4 separate regions of the Homo sapiens genome follow, and regions 1, 2 and 4 are each linked to region 3. Evidence: fine-mapped expression QTL. A gene starts in region 3. Each other region holds a variant in brackets. All regions are shown on one strand. Distances are between the middles of the regions.

What was found. PIP is the estimated chance that this variant, and not a neighbour inherited with it, causes the effect. A credible set is the group of variants that fine-mapping cannot tell apart.
Region 1: its variant is the best candidate, but not a certain one, in a credible set for the expression of CAMKK2 in visceral fat (GTEx, PIP 0.64).
Region 2: its variant is the best candidate, but not a certain one, in a credible set for the expression of CAMKK2 in testis (GTEx, PIP 0.81).
Region 4: its variant is the best candidate, but not a certain one, in a credible set for the expression of CAMKK2 in whole blood (INTERVAL, PIP 0.78).

What each region holds. Positions count from the first base shown.
Region 1 is chr12:121,199,643-121,204,852 of GRCh38, forward strand. LOC105370032 (a long non-coding RNA gene) reads right to left here. Exons shown (of 4, transcript XR_001749352.3): 2 at 3,856-3,958. Among named protein-coding and RNA genes, the nearest start is that of P2RX4, 7.9 kb to the right of the region's middle. The variant C/T (reference allele first, on the strand shown) is at 2,212.
Region 2 is chr12:121,266,518-121,271,727 of GRCh38, forward strand. It overlaps CAMKK2 (calcium/calmodulin dependent protein kinase kinase 2), which reads right to left. Exons shown (of 17, transcript NM_001270485.2): 3 at 4,381-4,428; 4 at 3,011-3,064; 5 at 2,121-2,172. Among named protein-coding and RNA genes, the nearest start is that of CAMKK2, 28 kb to the right of the region's middle. The variant G/A (reference allele first, on the strand shown) is at 3,001.
Region 3 is chr12:121,294,181-121,298,785 of GRCh38, forward strand. CAMKK2 (calcium/calmodulin dependent protein kinase kinase 2) reads right to left here and starts at 2,529. Exons shown (of 17, transcript NM_001270485.2): 1 at 2,458-2,529. RefSeq lists a silencer at 2,065-3,214.
Region 4 is chr12:121,248,034-121,253,243 of GRCh38, forward strand. It overlaps CAMKK2 (calcium/calmodulin dependent protein kinase kinase 2), which reads right to left. Exons shown (of 17, transcript NM_001270485.2): 11 at 4,628-4,681; 12 at 1,928-2,001; 13 at 1,754-1,841; 14 at 573-701. Among named protein-coding and RNA genes, the nearest start is that of P2RX4, 41 kb to the left of the region's middle. RefSeq lists an enhancer at 908-987. The variant G/A (reference allele first, on the strand shown) is at 2,190.

The DNA of each region.
Region 1 (5,210 bases), 94 kb before region 3:
CCTCATAATCCACCCACCTCGGCCTCCCAAAGTGCTGAGATTACAGTCTTTTTTTTTTTTTTTTTTTTTTTTTTTGGAGCCGAAGTCTCCCTCTGTTGGTTTAGTGGTGCGATCTTGGCTCATCGCAACCTCTGCCTCACGGGTTCAAGCGATTCTCCTGCCTCAGCCTCCTGAGTAGCTGGGACTACAGGTGCATGCCACCATGCCTGGCTAATTTTTCTATTTTTAGTAGAGATAGGGTTTCCCTATGTTGGCCAGGCTGGTCTTGAACTCCTGACCTCATGATCTGCCCACCTTGGCCTCCCAAAGTGCTGAGATTACAGGCGTGAGCCACCGCGCCTGGCCTAATCTAGCACTTTAAAGACAAATACTAGGGAAGAAAAGAGATTGATTCAAAGAATCATTCTGGTCAGGCGCGGTGGCTCACACCTGTAATCCCAACACTTTGGAAGGCCAAGGCAGGAGGTTTGCTTGAGCCCAGGAATCAAGACCAGGCTGGGTAAAACAGTGAGACTCCATCTCTATCAAAAAAAAAAAAAAGATCATTCTCCCTGGATGAAGCAAGATGCTTCTCTTCTTTTGATGTGTATAATTTAGATTCTAACACACGCTGTTTTGTATCTTGCCTTGCCTTTTTCCTCACTTAACATTACAGCATAAGCATTTCCTCCATATAATTAAATATACTTCATAAACATTTTTAGGAGTAGCTTTAAAATTGTTTTTCTTTTCTTTTCTTTTCTTTTTTTCTGAAATGGAGTTTCGCTCTATCACCCAGGCTGGAGTGCAGCGGCACAATCTCGGCTCACTGCAACCTCCGCCTCCCGGGTTCAAGCGAGTCTCCTGCCTCAGCCTCCAAAGTAGCTGGTACTAGAGGCACCCGCCACCACACCCAGCTAATTTTTGTATTTTTAGTAGAGGCGGGGTTTCACCATGTTGGCCAGGCTGGTCTCGATCTCTTGACCTCGTGATCGGCCCACCTTGGCCTCCCAAAGTGCTGGGATTACAGGTGTGAGCCACCGTGCCCGGCCTTCTCTTAAGAAAAGTAATCAACTTCAGAGTAGACATTTTTAAAAATGCAGATAAGTATGCAGAGCAAAAATCATCTATAGTTTCACCCTTCCCAGAAAAACCAGTTAAGATTTTAATTTATGATCTGCCACACTTTTTTCTATAAACACAAAAATTTGAAGACCCAGTACACATATTGCCCTGTTATATTTTTCCATTTAATTATCTCAAATATCTTTCCACAGCATACTATCATTATTTTATTTTATTTTATCTTGAGATGGAGCCTCATTCAGCCGGGCGCAGTGGCTCACACCTATAAACCCAGCACTTTGGGAGGCCAAGGCGGGTGGTTCACCTGAGGTCAGGAGTTCGAGACCAGCCTGGCCAACATGGGGAAACCCCGTCTCTACTAAAAATACAAAAAATTAGCCAGGTGTGGTGGTGGGCGCCTATAATCCCAGCTACTTGGGAGGCTGAGGCAGGAGAATTGCTTGAACCCAGGAGATGGAGGTTGCAGTGAGCCAAGATCACGCCATTGCACTCCAGCCTGGGGGACAGAGCAACACTCTGTCTCTAAAAAAATAAATAAATAAAAAATAAAAAAGCTTTTCAATAGTTTTGCCTTGCTGGACTCACTGGGTTATGTCTGTAATCCCAGCACTTTGGGAAGCAGAGCTGGGAGAATTGCTTCAGGCCAGGAGTTTGACATCAGCCTGGGCAACATAGTGAGACCCCATTTCTTTCTTTTTTTTTTTTTTTTTAAGAATTTTAAAAAACGGGCGGGGCACAGTGGCTCACGCCTGTAATCCTAGCACTTTGGGAGGCCCAGGTGGGCAGATCACCTGAGGTCGGGAGTTCGAGACCAGCCTGACCAACATGGAGAAACCCCATCTCTACTAAAAATACAAAATTAGCCAAGCGTGGTGGTGCATGCCTGTAATCCCAGCTACTTGGGAGGCTGAGGCAGGAGGATTGCCTGAACCTGGGAGGCAGAGGTTGCGGTGAGCCAAGATCGCACCATTGCACTCCAGCCTGGGCAACAAGAGCGAAATTCCGTCTCAAAAAATAAAAATAAAAATAAAAAAAGTTAAAAACTAAAAAAAAAATCATAAATGTTACACATTTTCAACCAAGTAAAACGAAATAAAATATATAGATTTTACATTATTTCCATTCTATATATTACAATTTTTTCTT[C/T]GTGGCACAGTGACATGAAATTTCATTGTGAAATTTAAAAAGAAACAAACAAAAATTTGTTGTGAAAATCACATACAGGATTGATGAATTTGGGGCTGCCTCTTGTTTTCAGCAGTATCAGACAATTCCCCCACACTGCCTCTTGCAGTCACAGGTTATTCCCCATCCACCTTTTATTCTACGCTGCCTATCAAAGGGTGTGATCTCTGAGGTCTTTTACAGCCTAAAGACCGAATGTCAAATGTGCTAAGATGTCAAGATCCAGGTATTAGAATATGTCCAGCTCATCTGCAGGAATATCATCCTTCCCCATCTCCTCCATTTCAACAACCTGTAATTCCTCCCACCCACTGAATGGGAGAAAACATCTATAGATCATATATCTGATATGGAATTTGTATCTAGAATATATAAAGAAGTCTTACACTTTAAAACCATAATACAAGTGGCCGGCATGGTGGCTCACGCCTGTAATCCCAGCAATTTGGGAGGCCAAGGTGGGTGGATCATCTGAGGTCAGGAGTTTGAGACCAGCCTGATCAACAGGGTGAAACCCTGTCTTTACTAAAAATACAAAAATTAGCAGGGCATGGTGGTGGGTGCCTGTAATCCCAGCTACTACTTGGGAGGCTGAGGCAGGAGAATTGCTTGAACCTGGGAGGCGGAGGTTGCAGTGAGCTGACATCCCGCCACTGCACACCAGCCTGGGCAACAGAGAGAGACCCTGTGTCAAAAAAACGAAAAGGACGTTGGGTCTGATGGGGTTGAGAGGATTATCTGTGATCAACATATGGCCTGTTAGATAAGAGTCAGGGTTTTTCTGTTCTGTTTTTTTGCTTTTTGTTTTTTTTGTTGTTGTTGTTCCACAATAGATTCAGTCTCAAGCACTACCCAGGGAAAGCAACAGCAAAATTATAAAATAATTTATTCCTCACTTCTGCTATCAACTTGTTCTTTATTTAGACGTTCTGTTTCTGGAAGTATATATAATTATACTGTGTGCCACACGTATCTGTCATTCTGTTATACAATGACGTATTTCACAATGTCTATGTGCCAGATAAGCGAGTCTTACATCTTTAAATGCCTAAACATTTAATTTAAACATTTTTTCATTGTAGATTCTCCTAAACAAATGACACTGTCTCTTCTGACTGGCCTTTTGCGGCTCAAGGCCATTGTAACAAATGTCAGTCTTACATAACCATAACCAAATGACACCCTAAGGCACACTGAGGTCTCTAAACTAAATGGCCCCAGACTGATGAGCTTTTCGGAGTTCTTGGCTCTGCTTTTTATAGAAACATTTCTTTTTTATGGGCTATTTGTGTATCGCTGCTCTTAGTATTGGTGGCCTGGGGCAACGCGTCCCACCTCCTTCTAATTTGCTGCATTCAAACAAATGTTTGTTTTACCACCTACGTTACTGGTGACATAATACATTTTTTATCTGTTAGATCCTAGGGCTATAGACATAGTCTTTTCAATTCCAAGTTTCAGAAGGCTACTAGGTTAAGTAAAAAATGAACACTTATTATGAGATTATGGGGGTATCTCAAAGGTAAAGGTGAACGGGGGGAGGAGGCAGAACCAAGAAGTGGAAGCTCAACAGAAACCAGAGGCCGTTCCCTTCGTCTCTCTCACCTCTGTGCATCTTTGCCCGGCTGTTTCATACTTTTGCTTCTGCAGATTACTGTTCTCAGCTTCTCCATGCATACGATGGTTATGTCAAATCAGTTCCAGTCACCTGCAGAGAAGAAAGAGTTGTCACTATCCCAATGCCAAAGCCAGAGGAGAGACTGGCCCGGCTGGGTCAGTTTCCCACCTGTGGTCCAGTCAGCTGTGGCCAGGAAGATAAGGTCACATAGTATAAAAACAGCTGCTGCACCACCTCTGCGAGAAATGACAGCCTAGAGAAAGCAGGTACTGATGAACTGGCTTCACCAGCAACAAAGGAACCAGAAAATCGAAACTGCTCCAATCGCATCTGAACTAAAAAGAGGCCGGGCGCGGTGGCTCACGACTGTAACCCCACGCTTTGGGAGGCCGAGGCAGATGGATCGCTTGAACTCAGGAGTTCAAGACCAGCCTGGGCAACCTGGTGAAACCCCATCTCTACCAAAAATACAAAAAATTAGCTGGGCATGGTGGCGTGTGCATGTAGTCTTAGCTACTTGGGAGGCTGAGGTGGGAGGATTGCTCGAACCCAGGAGGCGGAGGTTGCACTGAGCCGAGATCATGCCACTGCATTCCAGTCCAGGTGACACAGGGAGACCCTGTCTCAAAAAGGAAAAAAAAAAGGTAAGCTTGGTGTGAGGGCCTGAGATGCTCCCCTGTGAAGAAGGAATATGACGTCTGGCCCCATGGATTCGTGGTATATACTTTGCTTTTCTTGAGACCTTGGTTGTTTACTCCCTGTTTACTGGAATTATTACTGAGACATAACTCACATACCATAAAATTTACTCTTTTTAAATGTACAATTCAGCGGCTTTTAGTATATTCACAGGTTCCGCAACTATCACCACTTTCTTTTCCAGCACATTTTCATCACCCTAAATGGAAACCTTGTACTCACCAGCAGCCACTTTCCATCCTTTCTTTCCCCCAGCCCCTGGCAACCACTAATCTACTATCAGTTTTGTTTTGTTTTGTTTTGTTTTGAGACGGAGTTTTGCCCTTGTCGCCCAGGCTGGAGTCCAATGGCGCGATCTCAGCTCACCGCAACCTCCGCCTCCCAGGTTCAAGCGATTTTCCTGCCTCAGCCTCCTGAGTAGCTGGGATTACAGGCGTGCACCACCATGCCCAGCTAATTTTGTATTTTTAGTAGAGATGGGGTTTCTCTATGTTGGTCAGGCTGGTCTCAAACTCCTGACCTCAGGTGATATGCACGCCTCAGCCTCCCAAAGTGCTGGGATTACAGGCGTGAGCCACCACACCCGGCCTCTACTTTCAGTTTCTATGGATTTGCCTATTCCAGACATTTCCTATACACAGAA
Region 2 (5,210 bases), 27 kb before region 3:
ATGGAGTCTCGCTCTGTCGCCTAGGCTGGAGTGCAGTGGCGCGATCTCGGCTCAGTGTAACCTCTGCTTCCCAGGTTCAAGCAATTCTCTGCCTCAGCCTCCCGAGTAGCTGGGATTACAGGCACCCACCATGCCTGGCTACTTTTTTGTATATTTAGTAGAGACAGGGTTTCACCATCTTGACCAGGCTGATCTTGAACTCCTGACCTCGTGATCCACCCGCCTCGGCCTCCCAAAGTGCTGGGATTACAGGCATGAGCCACCATGCCTGGCTGTTTGTTCTTATCTAATTTCTCTTTTTGGCCCAAGCTGACATTTTGCCCAGCAATGCTGGCAGGGAGCTTATGTTGAAGCAGCCTCTGATACTCTCACCTGCAGCCTATCATCTGACCACACACAGGAGCTACCAGCAACTAAAAGTGCTAAAAGCCAAGGCTGCCTATAGGAGAAGGAAAGAGGTCAGCAAGAAACTGGTCTCCATGATGAGCCCTCCTGTGCTCTGGCCTTTTTTTTTTTTTTTTTTTTTTTTTTTTTTTGGTAGATATAATTCAAATACCTCGTGGTATTTAAATTTTTTTAATTTATCTTTTTTTTTTTTTTTTTTTTTTGAGAGATGGAGTCTCAGTCTGTCGTCCAGGCTGGAGTGCAGTGGCGCAATCTCAGCTCACTCCAACCTCCGCCTCCTGGGTTCCAGCGATTCTCCTGCCTCAGCCTCTCGAGTAGCCAGGGATTTACAGATGCATGCCACCATGCCTGGCTAATTTTTGTATTTTTTTAGTAGATGCAGGGTTTCACCATATTGGCCAGAATGATCTCAAACTCCTGACCTCGTGATCCACCCACCTTGGCCTCCCAAAGTGCTAGGATTATAGGCATGAGCCACCGTGCCCTGCTAAATTTACCATTTTAAAATGTGTATTTTAATGGTTTTTAGTGCTGACAAGGTTGTGCAACCATCACCATTATCTATTGCATATTTTTTTTTCTTTTTTTGAGATGGAGTCTTGCTCTGTCACCCAGGCTGGAGTGCAGTGGCATGATCTCGGCTCACTGCAACCTCCACCTCCTTGGTTCATGCAATTCTCCTGCCTCAGCCTCCCGAGTAGCTGGGATTACAGGCACACACCACTACGCTCAGCTAGTTTTTCTATTTTTAGTAAAGATAGGGCTTCACCATGTTGGGCCTGGCTGGTCTTGAACTCCTGACCTCAAGTGATCCACTCGCCTCGGCCTCCCAGAGTGCTGGGATTACAGGTGTGAGCCACCGTGCCCGGCCAACTGCAGAATATTTTCAATGCCTCCCTAAATATCTATATACATATCTGATATCTATCAGCATTCACCCCTCATTTCCCCTGTTCCCCAGAGCCCCCAGCAATCACAAATCTACTTTTGTTCCTATGGATTGGCCTATTCTGGGTATTTCACATAAACAGAATCACATAATATGTGAGCTTTTGTGTTAGGCTTCTTTCACTTAGCATAATGTCTTCAAGACCCCTCTGTGTTGGGGCATGAATTGGTACTTCATTACTTTTCATGGCTGAATAATATTCCATTGGATGCATATATATATATATATACTCTATTCATATTACTTTTAATGGATGAATATTCCACTGGATGCATATATACTCTATTCATTCTCTGAAGCCGTGTGTGCTGTTTCCACTTTTTAGTTATTGTGGCTAAACCTGCTATGAACATTCACATACAAGCTCCTAGGTGAACACGGATGTCCTGTTCTCTTGGGTATATAAGTAGGAGTGAAATTACTGAGTCATACGGTAACACCATGTTTAACTTTTTGAGGAATTGCCAGTGTTTTCCTCTATTGGATTTTTTGACTTGATACCTATATAACTTTAATAAATATTTTTATTTTATTATTTTTTGAGACAGAGTCTTGCTCTGTCACCCAGGCTGGAGTGCAGTGGTGCGATCTTGGCTCACTGCAAACTCCTCCTCCCAGGTTCAAGCAATTCTTGTGCCTCAGCCTCCCAAGTAGCTGGAACTACAGGCATGTGGCACCATGCCCAGTGCAATGGTTCCCATTCAGGGGGCTCTGCCCTGTCTTGTCCCAGCCCCTGTACCTAACAACAAAGGCCCGCCAAACTCACGTGGAAAGCCGGCCTGCCGGATCAGCTTCTTTTTGGACAGCACCTTCATTGCCTGCAGGAAAATGAAGGACAGCACCTTTAGCCAGGTCCTGTTTAAAGCAGGGAGGAAAAGGGGAAGGAGGGCGCAGTCGGGGTTCCTCTACTCCAAAGCCGGCCCAAGCTCCTGGCCCCCTGGCAGGCTCAGGTCAACAGAGTGAGCCCCTCATTACCAGAGAGGGTCAAGCAGCCATGGGGTTGTAGGGAGGCTGGACTCCTGGGGTGCCTCCAGCTCTGAGGTGTTCCTGAGGCTCACGGTCGCCTCTCTCAGCTGGGAAACCACGAGCCTCAGGACTTGCTGCCATCGAATCAAAACACAAGTGAGCTGGAGCAATGGGCAAAGGAGGGGCAGGACTGGTTGTTTTACACACGGGGAAACTGAGGCTCAGCTGTTTTACACATGGGGAAACTGAGGCTCAGCTGTTTTACACATGGGGAAACTGAGGCTCAGCTGTTTTACACATGGAGAAATATCACTTGTCAAGGTCACATGGTTGGCACACGATAGATTCAGGTTCAAAACTACGCTGGACTGACTCCAAAGCCACCCACACAGACACCTGTCTCACTGCTGCCTTGTTCTCAATACTATGGAGGATGCAGAGATGACAGCTCAGAGGAAGGGCATAAAAGCCTTTTGCTGAATGAGTAACTTTTTCTGGGCCAATCCCCTCACCTCCCCATTTTCCTATCTGTAAAATGGGCATACCACTTCCTTCCTAAGGCACAAAATAAACATGACCTAAGAATAAAATGAGACAACAGCTAGGAAAACTTTCCAGGAAGCTGAGTGCTGGAAAGGAGGCTCTTCTGTGGATAAGGATGGGGGCAGGGAGGAGAATGC[G/A]GATACTCACATAGTAGGTATTGTCATTTTCATTGTAGGCCAACTTGACGACACCATAGGAGCCCTGGATAAAGGGAGATGCCCATGACATACTATCCAGAAGTTAAGATCTGCAAAATGAGAACCCTAATACAGACGTTGCAAACCGGCAGCCCATTGGTCAAATCTGTCCCGCAACTGTATTTTGTTGGAGCCCAGGTTTTTACAAAGTTTGGATTAGTTGCCAAGATTTAAAAACAGAAAGATCTGGGCGGAGCGCAGTGGCTCATACCTGTAATCCCAATACTTTGGGAGGCCGAGGCAGGCGGATCACTTGAGTTAAGGAGTTTGAGACCAGCCTGGCCAACATGATGAAACCGCGTCTCTACTAAAAATACAAAAATTAGCCGGGGCATGGTAGCAGGCACCTGTAATCCCAGCTACTCAGGGGGCTGAGGCTTGAGAATCACTTAAACCCGAAAGCAGAGGCTGCAGTGAGCCAAGATTTCGGCACTGTACTCCAGCCTGGGCGACACAGTGAAATTCAGTCTCAAAAAAAAACAGAAAGGTCTGATATAGAAATCTATATTCCTTGCCAGGCAAGGTGGCTTACACCTGTAATCCCAGCACTTTGGGAGGCCGAGGCGGGCAGATCACTTGAGGTCAGGTTTGAGAACAGCCTGGGCAACATAGTGAAACCCTGTCTCTACAAAAATTACAAAAATTAGCCAGGTGTGGTGGTGCACACCTGTACTCCCAACTACTTGGGAGGCTGAGGCAGGAGAATCGCTTGAGCCTAGGAGGCAGAGGTTGCAGTGAGCCGAGATTGCGCCACTGCGCTCCAGCCTTGGTGATAGAGCAACACCCTGTCTAAAAAAAAAAAAAAAAATCAAGATTCCTAGTTTATTTTGAAAAAATGGAAAGATCTAGCTATATGTAGCCCTCATTTCCATATGTTAATGGTTTGCCACTGTCCTTACCACTCCCTACTACCTTACAGCTGGCATGCCTCACTCCTTTATATTACTTACTTGTTTTCTACTGGCATTTGGAGTTTTGACCATGGTGATGATACCCCCCATTAGCTAAAACAAAAGCAAAACTAGATGTCAGAGTACCTCGGGGTGAAACAAAACCCCAAATGTATTGGGGATGTAACTATCACCAAGGCGATATGGAATTTCGTTGGAAGCTTTCTGAGCTTCTGCAGAAACATATTTAATTTTAAGATACAAGAAAACAAAACTAAACCAAAAACCTAGATCATTAATGACAAAACCCTCTCCACCAACCTCGCCTTCAAAGACTCCTCTCCTGCTCCCAGCTTTACCCCGTTCCCTCCACAGTATCTGAACGCCCCTGGTGAATGCAGAAAGCCAGCCTAGCCCCAGGGATATTTACCTTTCCAATTTCATCCTTCAGGGTATACTGATTCAGCTGCACACAGTCCTAGAGAGTAAGGAGAGACACGTGCAAAATGAATTTTAAGTTTGCAACTAGAGGCCAGGCACGGTGGCTCACACCTACAAGCCCTTCAGGAGACCAAGGTGGGAGGATCACTTGAGTTCAGGAGTTCCAGACCAGCCTGGCCAACATGGTGAAATCCCATCTCTATTAATAATATAAAAATTAGCCAGGCGTGGTGGTGGGCACCTGTAATCCCAGCTACTCAGGAGGCTGAGGCACGAGAATCGCGTGAGCCCAGGAGGTGGAGGTTGCTTGAGCGGAGATTGCACCATTGCACTCCAGCCTGGGCAAAAGAGTAAAACTGTGTCTCAAAAAAAAAAAAAAAAAAGTTTGCAACTAGATACATTTCTCCAAATTAAACACATACAGGTAACCAGAACCCAAATCAAGAAAGAGAACATCCCCAGCTCCCAGAAGCCACTCGCACCTCTGCCCTCCCCCAGGTGGCCACTCTCTTGACTTCTAACAACGCTGATTTTGCTTGTTGTACTTTGTCAAAATGTAACCACACACTGTGGACTCTTGTAAAACCCATTTTTTAAAGAAGGTTGTTCCTACTTTTAAAAAGTAAATTTTAAATCAAACAAGTAATCCTTGGCTACATTGTCCTGTAAAAACATAAAGTGATACAAGAAAAGCAAGTCTGTGCAACCTTGGGGTAGACAAGGGTTTCTTAGATAATACAAAAAAGGTACAGACAAAAGAAACAAATGATAAATTGGACTTCACCAAAATTAAAACTTTGGCTTTTTTTTCTTTTTGAG
Region 3 (4,605 bases):
CCTCGGCCTCCCAAAGTGCTGGGATTACAAGCGTGAGCCACCACGCCCAGCCAGGGGAGGGTGATTCTTTATGTCGTGGCCCTGGCCTGCCTACAGGACACTTTAGTAGGCATCCCTGACTCCCGCCCACTAAAAGCCAGGAGTGCTTAGCATCATTTTGACAACCAAAAGTCGCCCCCACACTTTCCCAAATCCCTGCCAGGAGGGTGGGACCACCCCCGGATGAGAACTAGTGCATTGTTATTAGTGACTATATTTAGCTACCAGCCCACTAGCCATATCTAAGGATGGGCAGTACTACAGACCCTGCATAGAGCTGCATCGGCAAACACTGATGTAGTGAATAAACAAAACAAAACAAACTCCTGGGCTCCTCAAGAAGCTCAGGGCAGCCTTGCCAGGGTCTCTGCTCTTGAACAGGTGCACAAAGGTTCTAAGGCCTGACATGCCTGCACTGGCTGTGTGACCCTGAGCAAGTTACTTAACTTCTCTGAGCCCTTCTATAAAATGGGGCTAAATCCTAGCAACACTGCAGGATTTCTGTAAACCTCAGTCTCCTAATCTCTACTATGGGGTTAAAATTCCCTACGTTGTAGGATTTGGTAGGCATTAAATGAGATAATGCATGTAACACATAGCACAGAATCTGGCAGGCAGCAAGAACTCAATAGATGTTAGTTTTTAATACTGTTATTATTATTATTGTCCAGGGCCAGGTGGCAGCTCATGCCTGTAATCCTAGCACTTGGGAGACTGACGTAGGCGGATCACTTGAGGTAAGGAGTTCAAGACCAGCCTGACCAACATGGTGAAACCCCTTCTCTACTAAAAATACAGAAATTAGCCAGGCATGGTGGTGGGCGCCTGTAATCCCAGCTACTGGAGAGGCTGAGGCATGAGAATCGCTTGAACCCGGGAGGCGGAGGTTGCAGTGAGCCAAGATTGTGCCACTGCACTCCACCCTGGGCAACAGAGACTCCGTCTCAAAATAAATAAATAAGTATTCTTATTATTATCCAAGTTAGGGGCTCATCAAATGATGGCTATTACTCTTCATTACAAAAATATGTTTTGCGTCCTCATCACCAATGCCTGCTTCCTCCATAGGAAGGGTGTGTGTCACCAATGCCTGCTTCCTCCATAGGAAGGGTGTATGAGCAGCAGTCTGGAAGGGGTATGTGGGGCTTGCCCTAAAGCTGCATTTGCATGGCATGCACACTATTTATTCTGAAACTGCATGTTTTTGTGGGGTGATTAGGGAAGAGGGTGGCTAACTCCCCCAAAGCCCTCCCCTTGTTGCAGCCCCCGCCTCCTCCAAGGAACAAAGGAGCTTATGGGGACATAAAGCCATCCTCTTCTCTCTCCTCTGGGGGCAGAGCTAGGGGAGGGGGAGTGGTAAATGGCAGCACAGCTCTAGGGCACCTGAAGTTTCTATCCCCTGCGTGGAGACTCCAAACACCAGGCTGGGGAAGGTAAAAGTAGCCTGTAGGGAGATGGACGCTGCAGGTCCCATCCGGAGGCCAGGTATCCCTCTCTTGCTGATAGCACTGAGACGCCCTCCCCAAAGCTCAGCCTTCTCGGGGAGATCGGAGGGGCTGAGCTGCATCCTGTCCAGCACTAAGTGAGAGTGGCCAGGAGGGCAGGCTGGCAGAGCTGTGAAAGCACCCACTTCCCCAGCTAGGCAGTGCAGGGGCTGGGGGAAAGCCAGGAAAAGCTCAAGGCTGGGTCGGGTGGCACCCCAGGCACAGAGCCCCAATGCTGAGAGGGGCTGGGTCCAGTGTCCCTGAGAGTCAGGCGGACGCCTCTCCGCATTCACAGCATACTGCAACCCCGAGGTGAATTTAGGTCAGAAGGACCAAGCCTGTGAGGCTCCGGCTGAGAGAAGAGGTGCGGTGGGGGTGGTCAAAGGGCAGACCGAAGACAGCCAAAGGTCCCCTAGGTCCCCACAACTGCTGGCCTAGGGTCCTGCCACCTGGTGTCCAAGCCACCAGGGCCTGGGTTTGCCCCGAGACAGGCAGGCTGCGGGGTGGGGGTGCTCCAAGTCCGCTGGTCCTCTCTTCCCCGGAACGCTCCAGATTTCCCCACCTGTCAAACGCGAGGGGCTGGGCCTAGGCCGCCTCCACGAACCCTGACGGACCCGGCCCCCGGTGACCCCGGTTCCAAACTCCAGGACCGCCCCTGCCACCCGGACAGGGCGCGGCCCAGCCGAGGAGGCCATCCCGAGGCCCAGGGCGCCCAGAGGACGCGGGGGAAGGGCTGTCGGGGACCGTGTCCCTCCACGTGGCGGGGCGTGGGGAGGCGCACGTGGGGTCCCTCCGTGTTGGGAGCCCCAGGCCAGCCTCCGGGCTTTGTGTGCCATGCCGGCGGCGGTCCCCCGCCTCGAGAGGGAAACGGAGCGGGCGCCCGGGGCCGCGGCGGCTGCGTCCCTTGCCCCGGGCCCGGCTACCGCCAGCTCACCTGGGCTCCGCGCCGCCGCCGCCTCCCGCGCTCTGCGCCCCCAGCTCGGCTCGGCTCGGCTCAGCTTGCTCTGCGCGGCCGCGCGCTCCTCTCCTCCGCCCGGGCGGCGGGCGCGCGGGGGGCGGGGGCGGGAGGAGCCGCCCGGCTCGGCTTGGGCGCGTCGCCGCCCCGGGCAGCGCGGGGATTGGCCACGGCGGCGGGAAACCCGAAAGCGGAACCGCCCGCGCCCGCCGCGCACCGCCCCCTGCGCGCCCCCGCCGGCTCGGCCCTGCGCCGGGGAGGGGTGGGGAGGCGGGAGCCTGCAAAGACGAAAGTAGCGAAGAGGCGAAGGGCAAGGAGCAGAAAGGGAGGAGGCGAAGAACGGGGGAAGAGAGGCCCGGCCGGGAGGATCGGAGGCGGCTGGGAGGAGAGCCTGGAGGGGCGCGGAGCGCAGGAGGTGGCGCCGCAACTTTGTACCCGCTCGCCCGCGGCGCGCACCTGCCCAGGTTCTTCCCGCGGCGCCCTCGGGCGGGCCGCGCCGGCAGCGCTTGCTTTGTTTAGCCAAATGCCGGGGCTGCAGGGCGCCTCCGGGCTGACCCTGGGAAAGTTCCCCCAAGCCGGCAAGAACACCCGGGGCCCCTCCTGTGGCGACCCGGCTGCTGCCCCTGCGCTAGGCGCCGGGCGGTGGATGCGGCCTGGACTTTGGGCCACCACCGACTCGGGGGAGCCCCCTTCCGCAGCTGCCTGCCGACTGACCACTTGCTCAGGGCCGGCCCTAAAGGCTGGGGGAAGGCGTTCCTCTCCCATCCCCAGCCCACCTGGATGCACCATTGAAGTTCATTCTGGCTTTTCCAGATGGCTACTTAGATGCTTTTTGTGAAATACAGCATATTCTTCCCATTCTCCCCTTTTTGGCACTTACTTTGCTGGAGCCTTAAGTGTGCGTTGGATCCCCCAGCTGGATAACAGCACTGTGCGGGGAAGAGGAGAAACGAAGACCTGGAGGGCTCCCTGAACCGTCCTACGGGGTCGAGCGACCCAGGGGATGTCTCACTGACCCTGCCAAACAGCCAAAAGGGAATCGAGTTGACAGGAGAGTCAACCTCCAAGTTAATAAAAGGTTCAAAGCCCTCTAGTTAACTGGGTGGATTTCCAGCCCGTTCCGATGTGCTTCTCTTGTATTTCTAGGCCGTAGGGACACTCACATGCAACGAGCCAATGAGAGCTCCACCCCGACTCCCTTTTTTTTTTTTTTTTTTTTCTTTTCTGAAACGGAGTCTCGCTCTGTCGCCCACGCTGGAGTGCAGTGACGCGATCTCGGATCACTGCAACCTCTGCCTCCCAGGTTCAAGCAGTTCTCTGCCTCAGTCTCCCGAGTAGCTGGGATTACAGGCGCCGGCCACCATACTTGGCTAATTTTTGTATTTTTCGTAGAGATGGGGTTTCACCATGTTGTCCAGGCTAATCTTGAATTCCTGACCTCGTGATCCACCCGCCTTGGCCTCCGAAAGTGCTGGGATTACAGGTGTGAGTCACCGCGCCCGGCCCACTCCCATTTTTTTTTCTTTGTTTTTTTTGTTTGTTTGTTTGTTTGTTTGTTTGTTTGTTTTGAGACAGGGTCTCTCTGTGTTGCCCAGGCTGGAGTGCAGTAGCACGATCACGGCTCGCTGCACCCTCGACCTCCCCAGGCTCAGGTGATCCTCCAGCCTCAGCCTCCTGAGTAGCTGGGACTACAGGCACACACCACCACACCTGGCTAATTTTTTCTATTTTTTGTAGAGACAGAGTTCTCCCTATGTTGCCCAGGCTGGTCTCAAACTCCTGGGCTCAAGTGATCCTCCTGCCTCTGCCTCCCAAAGTGCTGGGATTATAGGCATGAGCCAACATGCTCGGCCATCCACCTCTTCTGATGTTACTCAACGTGCATGCATTTGCTGGAAATGGCAAAAACCTGAGGCCGGGCATGGTGGCTCACGCCTATGATCCCAGCACTTTGGGAGGCCCGGGCGGAGAGATCACTTGAGGCCAGAAGTTCGAGACTAGCCTGGCCAGCATGGTGAAACCCCATCTCTATCAAAAATACAAAAATTAGCCCGGTGTGGTGGCGGTGCCCGTAATCCCAGCTACTCAGGAGGCTGAAGCACGAGAACCACTTGAACCGGGAGGCAG
Region 4 (5,210 bases), 46 kb before region 3:
AGAGCCTCCAAGGTTAGGCCTGAGGACTCTACATTCTGGCTCCTTCTTCCTGGGTCAGGATCCAAATTCAAGGCCATAAAAGGGGACCTACTTGCTCCTAAGCAATTCTCACTCTCAGGAGATGGGCAGAACTTTCTGAGTGTGTGCGTGGAAGTCCCTGCCCCTACCCCTGGTGGCTGCCCACACAGCAGACGTGAGATATGCTACGCCATCCACCCTGGAGCCTAAAATTCCAGCTAGGCGGGAATCCTGGCTTAGAGACCTGGGCTCCGGCTCCCAACCCTTGCCCCTGCCTGGAACTTCTCCTAGTTCCTCTCCCCTGATGAGCTCTGAAAGCAGGAATTCCAGAAGGATAATCTTCCCCTTCCTATGGTAACATGGAACCTGGCTCAGAAGATGCAGGGGTCACCTGGCCTGATACATGACCAAGGCCCAGAGGCCAGCAGCTGTGGATTAGGGGTGGCCCCCGGACATCTGACTCCCGGGCACCCGCCTGTGTCCGGCCTGTCCTGGCCAGGCCCCACCTCAGGCTCCTGGGTCCCTGCTCTGGGTCAGGGGTCCATCCACCTTACCACGGTTGCCAAGCTGGGAATGTGTTTGACTGAGTTCTCGACCTCCTCTTCAGTCACTTCGACCAGCGTGCAGTTCTCATCCTCCGACGGCAACGGCTCCGCCCCATGCCTCGTGACCCAGGGGTGCAGCTTCAACGAACGACAGGAGGGGTGAGGGGCAGGTGTGGCTGGCTACCGGGGGGCCCTGCCAGCGAGCGGAGCCACAAGGGCATGCAGGACGGAGAGGCAAGGGCCTGTGGTCAGGCATGCAAAACAGCTGGCGAGCAGAGGGCAGGGGTGAGCAAAGGGGCGGAAACATGAAGACGGAGAGACAGGACGGGAGGAGCTACAAGGCTGAAATGGAAGTGGGGCGATTCTCCATCCGGCCCCGGGTCTTGGCCGAAGTGATGGGAATTTGGCATCTGCCTTGCCTGGCTGCCCAAGGAGCATCCATCACTCCTCAGCCACAATCCCTGACACCTGGGAGGCTCAGTGCACAGCAGGCAGCATTCTCCCCATCTCACAGCAGGAGAGGCTTGGAGGCATGGTGGGACCAGCTGGCAGGACAGGATCAGGAGAGGACCCAGGCAGGGGTCTGCCCCCTTGGGTCCAAGCCCCAATCCATGATTTTTTGGGCTGCCTTCTGTTAAGACCTTCAAATGCCAGTTAGCTAGCTGCCTAGGAAGTCCCAGGGCAAATCTCTAGATTTCCTAGAGGGCCAGATATATGTGTGTGGCATTAGTGGAGATGTGTAGGGGAATACACTTTCCTAAAAGTGCTTTCTGCAAGAGGGTGGGATTCAGCAGGCTGGGGAGGTCGAATTGCTCATTAATTTCCTCCCATCCTCACTGCAGTTTCTCAAAGGGACGGGCCTTTGGAAAGGACCTGAGCTCTGGGAATAGGGTGTGGAGCACGGAGGCCCCATGCCGGTCTGCAGAGGGTGGATCCCATCAGCCCACGCCAATCAGAGCAAGTGCAGGCTGGCGGGTCATAGATCCCACTCCCACAGTCACAGTGCACACAATGCCCAAATCTTCCTACCCAGCCCTCAACAGCCCCCAGCAGCTCAGAGGCCCTGGGGCATAGGAGAACAGCGGTGCCAAGGAGGGTGTGGTGCTGTGGACACAAGGGTGTGGGGTCTGGCTGAGGCATGGCTGAGCCAAACAATTCCGAGCACGGGGCACAGGCTGAGCCAAGGGTACCTTGATTTCCGGCACCACGATCCTCGACTCGGGGTTCTTGTCCAGCATACGGGTGATCAGGTCCTTCAAGTCCTCAGCTATGTCGGGCCTGGGGATGGAGAGGCGTCAGGGTGGCAGACACGGGACCGCCAAGAACTCGGACAGGAGAGATGCGGGACGGCGGGAGATACTCACTGGTCTGGAAATTCCAGGGCCTGACTCTTGATCTTACTGTGTAAACACATGATCCGCTCGTCCATGAATGGGCACTGCAAAGAGGCCAGGGACAGAGTGGCAGTCAATGGCGGCCACATCTGCCCTTCGAGGGCCACCTGTGCTGTGCCACTCCACATAGGATACAGCAGAGAAATCAACAATTGCGGCCCAGGCTAGGGGGCAAGCAGTTCCCATTCTCCCCGAGAATGGCCAAGACACAGGGGTGTGGGGCCTGGCCGAC[G/A]CAGGGCAGAGCCAGGAATGGCCCTCTCGAAGGGCTAGAGCCTTTCCCAAGCACACTGCAGGCTCCCTCTGTAGCTGGGCCTCAGTTTACCTACTTACACCAAAGCAAACACTGCTCGTCACCTACTTGCCAGGTGAACAACAGGAACAACAAGAATAACACAAAAGACTTTGTGTTATTTGTGGCAGCAGCAGTGATTTTCAAGGGCTTAGCCTGGATCGCGCCACGCCCTGCCCTGAGGTTTTCATTCACTGTTCCCCGTCCCTGGAATGTTCTTCTCACCAACATCTACGTGGCTTGGTCTCTCCCACCATGCAGGTGTCTGACTAAAGCTCACCTTCTCAGGGAGGACTTCCTGAAGCCCTGTCTAAAACAGACAACCCCCAATGCCGCCACCGCCCACATCACTCCTCATCGTAGCACTTATCCCTGACGTTATCGTACAGATTTGTTTATTGTTTAACCCCTCCCACGGGAACGTTAGCTCCAAGAAGGCAGGGATTTCTGGCTGTCTTGCTCACTGCGGACTCTCCGTGCCTAGGAGCGTTCCTGCACAAAGTAAGGGCTCAATAAATATCTGCTGAATTAATGGATACTTGAATTATTTCTGTCAATCCTCTCAGAAGTCATCAGAAATAATAAGTAGTATTCTCATTTTACAGAAGAGAAAAACAGAAGTTCAGAGAAATAATGTGTCCCAGGAAGTACGAAGAGGGATTTAAGCCTAGATTCAGCTGACTCTGAAGCCTATTTTTGCACCACCTTCTGGGTGACAAATCGATGCTTTCACCCAGCTGAGGGCCTGACTCAAGAGCAGCTTGGTCATGTGTGCTGGAAAAGGAATCCTTACACGGGACACTGAAAATGTTGGAGAAGGTGGCAGAGAGGTACCTGAACCACCCGTCTAAGGAAAACGATTTCATTAAGAGCAGTGACTTGAGCTCTACCTAATCACTGCCTTCTAAGGCATTTGGAAGGAAGAGTGGAGATGGTGGTAACTTACTCTGAAATACATTAAGAAACCAGATGGACTGAGGGATGGGTAAGGAATGAACAGACAAGCACAGGAAAAGGTTAATATAGTAGAATCCAGGTGGTGGGTATGTGGGTGTTCACTGGACACTTCTTCCAGCTTTGCTACATGATTGAAAAATTTTCTAATCAAATATTGAGAGGCAATCGGTATAAACTCCTTTACTTCTTCATGGGACCAGTTTCTTAGGCTTTCCTCAATAAGAACACAAGCTCAGGAAAGGGAAAAATCTACGTTTTTATTGCTCACATAATCAAACTGAACTTCAGAGTTAAAACGAGAAGGCCAGGCGTGGTGGCTCACACCTGTAATCCCAAATCCCAGCACTCTGGGAGGCCCAGGCTGGCAGATCATTTGAGGTCAGGAGTTTGAAACCAGTCTGGCCAACATGGCAAAACACTATCTCTACAAAAATACAAAAATTAGCCGGGTGTGGTGGCTGGCATCTGTAGTCCCAGCTACTCAGGAGGCTGAGGCAGGAGAATGGCTTGAACCCGGGAGGCGGAGGTTGCAGTGAGCCGAGATCGCACCACTACACTCCAGCCTGGGTGACAGAGCAAGACTCCATCTCAAAAAAAAAAAAAAAAAAAATAGAGAGAGAAGCCCCCAGATATCAATAATAACAAAATAACAACAACAGAAAAGCCCAAACAGCACTCCCTAAATCAATAATGGTAAACAGCTTTTAACTTCCATTCCAATGCTACCCCTCTGACAAAAGCTTCTAGGAATACCCTGACGGAAAGAACATCAGAGCAGTATCAGGCTCAGGAGGAACGAGCACAGTTATTGATTAGTGATGTCTGCCTTGGGCTCAGAAATGGGAGAGGTGGCAGAACTGCTGTCCTTGCCCTAAATTTATCAACTATTTATAAACTCTAGAGCCTCTGCCAATCCTTCTGTTTTAACAGATCATTTTTTCATAGATATGATCATGACATACATACACATGTATATTTAGGAAGGCATCCTTTTTCACATTGAGATCTAGGTGTAGAAATAAAATAACTCTTCTCTTATTTTATTTTTTGAGACGGAGTCTCGCTCTTGTTGCCCAGGCTGGAATACAATGGTGCAATCTCAGCTCACTGCAAGCTCCGCCTCCTGGGTTCAGGCGATTCTCCTGCTTCAGCCTCCAGAGTAGCTGGGACTATAGGCATGCGCCATCACGCCTGGCTAATTTTTTGTATTTTTAGTAAAGACGGGGTTTCACCATGTTGGCCAAGCTGGTCTCCAACTCCTAACCTCTGCCTCAGCCTCCCAAAGTGCTGGGTTTACAGGCGTGAGCCACCATGCCCAGCCTAAAATAACTCTTAAATAAGTAAGTACTGTCTCCCCGCAAGGGTGACTATTAACCCAGGGGCCACCCAGCAGTACTGAGGGGACAGACACCCCGCCCTCTTACCTGGCCAAAGACAAAGCAGTATAGTGTCACACCCATGGCCCAAACATCCAAGGCCTGCAAGAAAAAGAGCTTAGTGTGAGGGCATAAGGGGTGGTCCAGCCTCCAATCCTCCAGTTTTCCTTTGGGGAACCACCTCTTGACTTTCAGCCCTTGGAGTTGGGGCGGGACCAATCTTGTCTCCTAGGCTCTGGGGCAGGCACAGGATCCAGGCCAGGCCAATGAGAGCACCACTACCCCCAGCCACAGTGATTGGTTCAAGCATGGGCACATGACCCATGTTGGGCCAATCAGAGCCAACCCCAGGGTTTTCACAGGCACTATTCAGAATGAGGAATGCTCTTGCCACTGAGGTTGGCAAATGATAGAAAGTAACCTGGTCCCTGGGTGCCTGACCCACCTGTGGAGGAAACCAAATAAGAAAAACAACTGAAAGATGGCGGGAGATGGTTTCTGTTTGAGTCCCTGGATCTAGCCAAGCCTGAAGCCTACCCCTCAGTATCTTGATCCAGGGGATTCACTGTTTAAGCCTGTGTGCGTTGGGTTTCTGCTGCTTACAATCCAGAAGACACTAACACAGGCAGAA